Linked DNA regions of Homo sapiens. The protein of the gene in region 2 interacts with the protein of the main gene of each other region in a biochemical or structural test. Each region holds a gene or a part of one and is shown on either strand. Other genes may lie near its edges.

Region 1 (3,465 bases), on a different chromosome or scaffold from region 2:
CACCTCACTAGGGTTGGAGAGGCCCTTGGCATCTGGGATGGCAGGGAAGAGAGGAGGAAGAGAAATGAAGACAAACCAAATCAGGATGGCCATGCAGATGTGAGCCACAGGATGCCCCTTTTGGGCTGCACTTGCTTGCCCTTTACCAGAGGCCTGGCAAGGGAAGCAGGGCCCACTGGGTTTGTGGGATGGATCCGTGGATGTGGGTTTTTCCTCGGCCAGTTGGGAGATTTCCAGGTTGAGGGTCTTACTGAGGGGGATAGCTGGGTAACTTAGGAGTCTCGGAGAAGAGGAGGCTCCAAGGTTGCCTTGGCCTTGAGAGACAAAGGTAATCCTCCTCTTACCTGGATTAAACAGAATGATTGCCCTCAGGCAGCCAAGCTCTGTCTTGTCCATCCTCATGTCACGCATTTTGGACACTAGCTCTGTCAGCACCCTGGAGAGGGACCTGCAGGTCACTCAAAGGTCACAGCTCAGCCAGCCTTGGACACGGACCAGCCTATAGCCCCACCCCCTCTATCTACATGCCAGCCTAGCCGAGGGCCACTGACCGATCAAAGATGGCTCCTACTCCTGCTGAATGGGCTGAGTTGCGGTGCACGTGAAGACCTGTGGCAAGGAGGATGCCATCTCGAACATCAATGGATCGGTGTGAGAAGGAGGCAATGAGGAGTTCATTCCAGCCTGGGTGGGGCAGCAAGGGTCAGGAGCCAGAAATCAGGCCAAGGGATTCAAAGCACATCAGTGGAAGAGAAGGAGAAAAGAGGTGGCGAGGTCAGCAAGTTTGGCTCCCTGGGTACGCAAGGTAAGGCCACTGGGGTCACTAAAGATCGGGAAGTCAAAGAGGGGTCAAATGTCAAGAAGTCAAAGGGATCCAAGGTCACTGACCTGCCCGCAGCAATATGACCTGATCATCCAGAGGCAAGGAGGAAAAGTGTGGGATCCTCTTCGCCCACTCAACAAGCGTGAATAGCTGTTTGTCAGCTGCCTGACAGATGTTAGTCACAGGGTCATTTGGCTGCAGGGGACGGGGGTAAGAGTTATGGAAGATTTTGAGATATGCTGGGAGCCCCCTTGTAAGAGGCTTTTGACACCCCCTCCTTACATATAGTCTTCCTGTGAGCCCCATCCAAACCAATCCCTGTAAGTGAGTCTTCTCTTCTGGCATTAGTGCAAACAATTATTTATTTGGGACATGCCTATGGTTCTGCCAGTGGGTTGTTTGGGGAGTGGAGACAGAAGGAGCTATCACATCCACCTCAGATGTTTGAAAGACCTTGTTTGGCAGCACCTCCAGTCCCAAGTAGTGTTAGGAAGGTTATGAGGGGAAAGGAGGGGGAGGGGATGTAGAACAGACCTAGACTGCCTCCCCCAACCCCCATCACGAAGGAGAGTGGATTGACCCCAACACTCACGCTGCTGCCGCTACCCCCGGTTCCCCCAGGACCCTCAACGCCCTGGTCACTCTTCTGTTCCACAGCAAGCTCTGCCTCCAGGATCCTGTCCACAGGCATCTCCTCGGGGGCTCCCCCAGCCCCCTCCCCATCCCCATCCTTGTCCTTTCCCCGCTGACGCTCCTCCTGTACCGCTGCAGGGGGAAGGGGGAGAGAAAAAATGGAAAGTCAGCAGCCAGCCATGAAGGGGTTCCACAAATATCCTTACGGCCTCATCAGGATCTCATGGCCCTTGGGAGATATTTATAGGAATTGGGGAAGTCACTAGAAAGGGTGGACTGGGGGCAGCCCTGAAGGAAGGGTTATAAAAGGGCAGGTAAGTCAGTCGGGAAGGGTGAGGTAGGTAAAAGAATTAGGGAGGAATTTAAATGGAGAGCCTACTACATGGTTAAAAAAAACATGCCAAGATTCAACCTGAGAAAGCTGATTGAAAAAAAAAATTTTTTTAAATAAAATATGCCAAGAAACATGCTAAGCACATTTTACCATTCACTCAATTATCATAATGATGCTGGAAGCATTTATTCTCATTTTTAAGATGAAGAACTCGGGGTTCAAAGAGATTAGTTTGCTTAAATTCATATAATACATGGCAGGTCATACAACTGACTCTAAGTGTGTCTGAGTGCAAATCTTGTGCTCTTCTGACTCAACAAATAGGCAGTGAAAGGAGCACTGGCCTAGGTCTTTGAAGATGTGGGTTCTGATCCCAAACCTGCCTGCCACTCCTTTGTTGCATGACCTTGGGAAAGCCAAGCCTCAGGCTCATCTTCTCTAAAGTGGGTGTTTTGACCAAGATATGCTCTAAAGTGTCTCTCAGAATCCTAGGAATCTGACTTAAGAAGATAAGATGGAGACACAGAAGAAGGAAGGGAAGCCCTGAGGTCTTCAGTAAAGTCTGTAAGCTTAAGAGTGCCCAGTCCCAGGAGTTAGAGGAAAGATCACAGATAACAGGAGACAGAGACCAGAGAAGGTCCATGGAATCAGAGGAGGAACCACTCAGGTTAGAAATGGGGAGACAGCCCATCATGGCTAAGGAAAAGTTATCCTATCCTAGGATCAGTCTAGGGAGGGGTCATATGTGCAGGCCACAGAGGCCTAACCATTAAGAAGGAAACTCAAGGGCCAGAACAGGGTAACAGGGAGGAGAGCTGCGAAGGGAGAGAGAAATCAAATATCGCCCTCTAGAGGAGAGAGAGCAGTCCACCCTTCCAGAGAGGTACACAGTCTGAGTGGGATAAGGGAGAAGGGCATGTGGTCTAAGACGCCTGGGCAGGGCGGGTCCTTACCCTCCCTCTTCATGCCAGTGGCCAGGCACTTCTGATAGCGGCAGTACTGACAGCGGTTCCGCTGGCGCTTGTCCACTGTGCAGTCTTTGTTGTCCCGGCAAGAGTATGTAAGGTCTTTGCGGATGGTGCGTTTGAAGAAGCCCTTGCAACCCTCACAGCTGTAAACCCCGTAGTGTTTGCCTACAGGGAAAGGGGAGGAGCAATAAGAAGGTTGCATGGAGACACCTTCACCATTTAGTCTGTTTCCAATCTCCCCCTAGCAAAACTTAAAGTCCTCCCTGTTTGCCAAATACAGAGATAGGGAACCAGGAGCTGAGTGATGATCCAGTCCCAGTCTCCTCACTGTTCAGAAACCCTACACGCTGCTTCCTTTTCCCTCTGACCTTCCCCCCAATCGCGTCCTACATCTCAGCTTCAGCTTCTTTACTCCCATCAGGCCTCCCCCAGGTCACTTGCTCTGACCAAACTCCATAAGCCCTGGGAATCCCACAGGTGATGATACATGGCCCAGACTCTCCCTCTCTGTTCATCCTCTGAGCCACATACCTGAGCTTCTGTCCCCGCAGATTGCACATAGCCGTTTGCCAGCCCCAGGGCCACCTGGAGGGGGTGGACAGTGCAGGCCCCGGACCCCTAAGACTGGTGGCTTCACATCTTCAGGGGGGCCAGACCCACCCCCAGGGAGTGACACTGTTGAGTTAATCTGGGATGGGGGAAATAGG
Region 2 (5,936 bases):
AGAAAGAGGTCACCTTTCTCACCACAAATGGCTTGCAGCCCCTAAGTCCCTGCAGCCCCAGTTCTCCCTCTGTAGTGAGCTTAGAGGTGTGTGAACTGAATAAGGTGGCCACAGCTTAGAGACAGAATAGGGGCCCTAGGGTCCTTACATTAGGGCCATGAAGGGGTTGAGACCAAACACCTCCTTCCCCAAGACCCAAGGTGAGGTGGGAAAGGGATGAAGAAGCAGGAGCGGGCAACCAGGGTAATGATCCCCACCCCCATCAAGTTCTCCCAAACCTCACTGGCTGAAGAGTTCAGCTCAGCAAAGCAAATCCTCTCCATCTGCTTGCAGCCTCAGTGCCCCGCCCCCTCCTGTGTCCCTCCGCCTCCCTTGCCTGCCCCGCCACTGCCCGCCCAGCTCTGCCTTTTGTCTACCTCTGGGGCCTTTTCCTGAGGACTCTCTCTCCTGGGCATCCCTCCCAGCTTCCCCTTCAGCTTCTAAGGTCTTTGTTTCTCTCCATCTGTGTCTCCCTAATCCTCAGGCCCCTACTTGGCCAAACACTACACCTTAGCACATTCCCAGCACCCCTCCCACTTTCTGCCCTCCCCGCCCCAAAACAGTTCAAGTAGTTTCCTCTATCCCTGCCTCCCATGGTGTATGCATGGGTGTAGTGGAAGTAGCCATTTACGGTGGAAATGTAGGTGAAGTAGAAGAGAAAACAAGGAGGGGAAGAGTAGCAGGCGTGGGAAACAAGGAGAGAGCAACAAACAAGGTCTGTGACTGGGGTGGGATAGGAATGGAGAAGAGGGAGGGACCAGTCTAGGAGACCCTCCCACCAGCCAGCCCCTCTCCTTCACCCCAAGATCCTAGCAGGCATAGGTTGACGTCCTGTGCTGATATGGCACATCTGAGTCCCTTCTGGACACTACACTAGCCTCCCAATTCAGATTCCAGTGCTCTCCCCACCCACTCCTTGGCAGGCACAGTGTAACACGGTAGGTGTCCTTGTGTGATCTGATCTGGTGTTGGTGTGCCACGCTGTGTATCTGATTCCATGTGAATGGAAGTCTCCTGTGTGAGATCACCCTGGGCGGGGGGGTCCTTTCTGGAACAGGATAGGGGATAGGAGAGGAGCCTGGTGCAGAACGGCTGCCCTGGGGGGCACTCAATTCCCTTCTCCCTTTAAGGGTAGCTCAGAACTCTTCACTCTCACTCCAGAGAGGGTGCCCTTCCACCCCACCGTGAGGTCTTCATTTCTGTGCCACAAGGTCAGTATGGCATTTCCACTACCTAGGGGGCTCTTCCCTACGTCCTGGGCCAGGAGAGCAAAGAGCTGGTCAGCTTCTCTCTGGGGGCCCCAGCACCAAAAGTCTGTATGGCCCTGGCCTGACTTTCCCATCTGGGCTGATGCAGGGAGGGAGAATACCAGAGACCAAAGTTCAAGGGGCCGGGCCCTCTCCTCCCCTGTTCTGTCCTTCTGGTCACTGTCCTTCCATGATCCCTTTTCCAGGAGAATATGTGACCTGGGCCCTAGGTCTTCTGCTAAGCAGCCCTCTGGCCTCATTTACTCAACACAGGCACACACACCGACACCGGCCGACAGCCATGCACAGACACAGTTAGAGAGGAGCACCCACGCGATGGGAGACACATGGCCCAGCGTTGGGCCATTCTGGTCCACACTCTTGAGACAGCACGGGAGCACAGCGGAGCCACTCAGCACTCACAAAGCGACAACATGGCTCCAGAACATCTACGTCTCCACATGCACACATGTAACTGACACGGGCAGTCCCACACACTCGCTGGATTTCAGACATACAAAGACACCTACTCAGTGAAGTCACATGCCACCGCACAGCCCGCCGGAGGGCCACACGGGCGCACCTTGGCAGATCGCACACAGCCCCTCTCCCACCGCCGTTAATCCCATTGGCTCCCCCCGTTTCACTCCGCGGGCCTCCGGGAGACCTGTGTGACGGCCCCTCAGCAACCACCGCGCCCCCCCCCCCCGCCATACACATACACACACAAGATAGGGCTCCCAGCCCCCAAACCCCGGCCGCGTTAATTTCCCAAAGCGACACTCCGCAGGTTCCCTGGGGAAATTAGAGGAAGGCTGGAAGAGAGGCAAGGGCGAACGGATGGGGCCGGGGAAGGGAGCTGATGAGGGCGAGGACAGCTCGACGCAATGCCATGCAATGCCCAGCCTCGGCTTTTTCGAAGGCTAGTCCTGCCCCGCTTCTAATTTTTAGGAATTCGAGATTCTTTCAGTGTGTATGCGGGAAGGGGACGATGAAGAGAAAAGAAAGCTGAAAGCCAGCTGAGGGGAGGGAACGAGAAAACAGAGGCGGCCGCCGTCCGGGGAGAGAAGCGAGCGACGGTCGGGCCGCGGGGAGGGGCCCGGAGGAGCAGCCTCCAGGGAGAGTCCTGTTTACACTTGAGGATCTCAAACCGCTTAGCGAGGAAAGGTGAGGTCAGGTTGCAAGCAAAGACGCGGCAGCGGGGCGCAGGGAGGGGGCGCGGCAAAGTGAGACTCGGGGCGTTCGGACGGGAAGCCGGACGGGATCCGGTCAGCGAGGTGGGGCCGAAGAGGGGTGGGGACGGCTGCGGGGGACGGCGCGACCGGAGCGGCGAGGCCGGGCGCCGTGGTGCGCGCAGGGCAGCTAGAGGGCGCTGGCGCTAGCCGCGCGGAGCCGGGAAAGGAGCTCCGGGCCGGGGAGCGGTGGGAGGGCGCAGTGGGGTCCGCCAGGACCCGGGCGCAAGGGCCGCGCGGGGCCGTCGGGGGCGGCCTGGGGCGAAGGACCGCGCCGGGCCCCAGGGCTGCGCGAGGTCCGGGCCGCCGCCGCCCCCGCCCGTACCTTGGCGCTCAACTCGGCCGCTGCCTCCACGCTTTTCTCCGACATGGTGCCGGGGCCGGGGCCGGGGCTGGCGGGGAGCCGGGGTCCCGGGGCCGAGACGGAGGGGCCCTGGACGGCGGAGGGTGGCCGCGGCCGGAACCTGGCGCGGTGGCGGCGGCGGCGGCGACAGCGGCAGCGGCGGCCGCTCGGCAAGCTGGGTCTCTGGAAGAGGCGGCAGAGGCGCGCGGGGTGGGGCGGGGGTGGGTCTGGAGCGGAGACCCGCAGGGCTGCGGCCGTCCGGAGGGCGGGCGGAAGGGCGGTGCAGGCGGTGGCCGGCGCGCTCGGCCGCGGTAGCTCGATCCCGGGCTCGCCGCCCCCGCACCAGCAGAGCTGCCGCCGACCAGCCGCTGCCGCCCCCGGGAAGGGAACCCGCTTATAAGGCGGCGCTGCCCGACGGGAGGGGCTTCCCAGGGGTGGGGCAGGCGGGAGCGGGGAGGAGAGGAGAGGGGAGGGGGATGAAAGAGGAGGTTGGAGAGGTGGGGATAGGAGGATGAAAGCGAGGGGAGGGAGAGCTAGGGAGTCGGGAGGGAGGACGAGACCAGGAGGGGGAAATGGAGAGACTGACGGCCGCGGAGAAAGAGTGGGGCGAGGAGGTGGGAAGGGGTGGGGTTCCTGCGGGGAGGCACCTTTCCAAATCCCAACCTACTGCCTGCGAATGTGGAGTCTGGCTTTTGGGGGCGGACTGGAGAGGTGGCCAGAATCCTACTGACCCCAAAAAAAGCCCTGGGATTTTGCCAAGGGGTGGGGTGAGGGGAGCAGATGGGAAGATAGGGCAGGTATTTGAGAAACCAAAAGCTTAAAGAAGAGGAAGAGGGTTCGGGCGCTCCTTCCACACCACGCCGGATTTCCCCCTCTCATCCTCCATCCACATTCTCTGGATGGCCTTGAGGAGGGATGGGAGGGCAGAAAGGGCGGCCCAGCCTTCTGTCCCGCCAGATTGACACTTGTGACCCTTGCCGGGTGCCTCCCTTCCTGGCCCCGTGCTGTGAGCCGGGGGGAGTCAGGCCCCCTGGTCTCCTTTGCTGTCTTCCAGCTCTCTTCCATCTTCTACCTCTCTTATTCGCCCGTCTCACCTCACTTTTATTCGCCTGGTCCTTCTATTTCTCTTCATCCGTCCTCAGTCATCTGTACCTAGACCCCTCCTTCACAACCAATTATAACTCGAATCGCTCCCATTCTTCTCTCACCTCTTCTCCACTCCTCACTGACTCTCTTCTGCCCTTCCACCTCTGGTCTCTTTCCCTATCTTTCCCAGACAACCCTGCTCTTGTCTTATCTGAGTCAGGCACCTGGCCCTCTATTCTTGGCTGGCTTTCCTCAACTCCTCTTTCTGTCCTCATTTTTTACATTTTCCATCCTTCAGCTTTTCTCATTCCTCTGCTGCCATCTTCCCTAGCCTTTCTGGGTTATATTTGCCTCCTTTGCAAATATAATACAGGTCCAGGTCTGGAGTTCCAGCCCCACCCTATTCCACACATCCTCAGCTCCTCGCCCTCAATCTCGGTATCTTTGAGTCATTTTGAAAAGCTTGGGATTTCAGAAGGGAACAGGGGCTGGGTTGTGTATTAAAGGTCAGGAAGGTGGACAGAGTGGAAGGCTGGGGTTTGGAAAAAGACCTTTGGTGTGCGTGCACTCCCATATTTGTCTGTCATTATCATTATTCCTCATCTTATTATTTTCATTTTATTAATAAAAAACTACGTTGATGATCATTATCATTATTTTGTGTTTGAGTGCTTAAATACACCATCTTTTGGTCCCTTGATGTACACGCCTCCCAGTTTCTCTTTCTGACTTTTCTATCAATATTTCAGTCTCAGTCTCCTCAAAAATCTTGGGGCCCCACCCAGGATTTTTCCTTGCCGGACTCTGTCCATCTTTTCTGAGATCTTTCCATGTCCCTCTCTCAATCTGTTTCTCTGACTCACTGGCTGATGTCTTCAGCCGTCTCTCACCGTCTCCATCTCTGTACTCCTCTTGCTTCATTTATCTCCCTCTCCTCGATCCTTTGCTACTCCCCCCCCCGCCCAACCAACAACCCAGTCTCCCAGTCTCGCTCCCTCCCCATCAGGCTCTTTCCTCTCCCTCCCGCCTTCCTTTCCTCTTCCCTCCACTCCACCTCCCAGCCCCGCCTGCTGTCTCGGACACCCTGCTGGGCTCTTACCCTGTTGCCCTGGTAACCGCCCCCCACTCCGGTCACCTCCACTCCTCTCCCCCCTCCAATCACCGCCACCAACAACCTCCATCCACCTTCCTCCTATTTTTCCTGATAGCCAATAGAAACCCTGTTGCCAGGTGGAATGCTCATTTGAATCAGCCAATCCAGAAGCCTAACTGCTTGCCCTGCCTTATATGGGGATGTGAGGAGGGCCACTCCCCCAACTCCAGCCCCACAGGGGACCAGCCCCTCCAGTGTCCCTTCTCCCCGCCCTAAAGAGAGGCTGGGACACTCCCTCTCACCCTTCCATAAGGGACCTGGCCTCCCACTTCTCTAACTGGGACCACCAGGGTTAGCGTGGGCTGTGGGCCGGACTGTGGGCTGGGCCTCAGGGCTGGGGGTGGGAATGAGGTGTGATTAGGGAAGGGGAGGCGGAGGGAGCCGGGAATTTTGCCCAGGGAGGGGTGTCTGGGAGCAGAGGCAGCTGCAGTGGAAAATTCCAGAGAGATGGAGAGGCAGAGAATGGGAATCCTGCCCCAAAGCCCAAGGGAGTGCCTTGAGAATCTAAGAGCTTGAACACTAGGGTCCGAGGGACCCCAGGGAAAAGATCTAGAAAGCTGGAGGCCTGGATCGAATTCCTTTCCTGGTGGATGAAGCATCCTTTAGCCATCTCTCTCTGGTTGGACAACAAACCAGTCTTCTGAAGTCTTGGCTTCATGAGAAAGAAGCTGGAAGTGAGACTTGGGATGAATGTGGAGTGAGTGGGATCTGAAAGCCACCCGACAGTCCTAGGGGTTAGCCTCAGAGCCTCTGGGGCCAACGGTGCTAAATGGCCTGTGTTTGCTTTTCTCTGTGGAACTATTTCTGAGGCTTTGTGGAGGCTTGCCTATTCCTAG

The links. Proteins that work in one complex are often made in the same cells at the same time.
Region 1: the proteins of PTMS (region 2) and RXRB form a complex in vitro, tested with the Homo sapiens proteins (one large-scale study listed by BioGRID).

The regions. Positions count from the first base shown.
Region 1 is NC_000006.12:33,195,019-33,198,483, forward strand, and holds part of RXRB (retinoic acid receptor RXR-beta), read right to left. Parts: intron 3,447-3,465; coding exon 3,290-3,446; intron 2,924-3,289; coding exon 2,744-2,923; intron 1,589-2,743; coding exon 1,416-1,588; intron 1,019-1,415; coding exon 889-1,018; intron 685-888; coding exon 552-684; intron 449-551; coding exon of another isoform or gene 437-448; coding exon 345-436; intron 33-344; coding exon 1-32. UniProt on the Homo sapiens protein: Receptor for retinoic acid. Retinoic acid receptors bind as heterodimers to their target response elements in response to their ligands, all-trans or 9-cis retinoic acid, and regulate gene expression in various biological processes.
Region 2 is NC_000012.12:6,763,658-6,769,593, reverse strand, and holds the start of PTMS (parathymosin), read right to left. Parts: upstream 3,232-5,936; 5' UTR 2,889-3,231; coding exon 2,844-2,888; intron 1-2,843.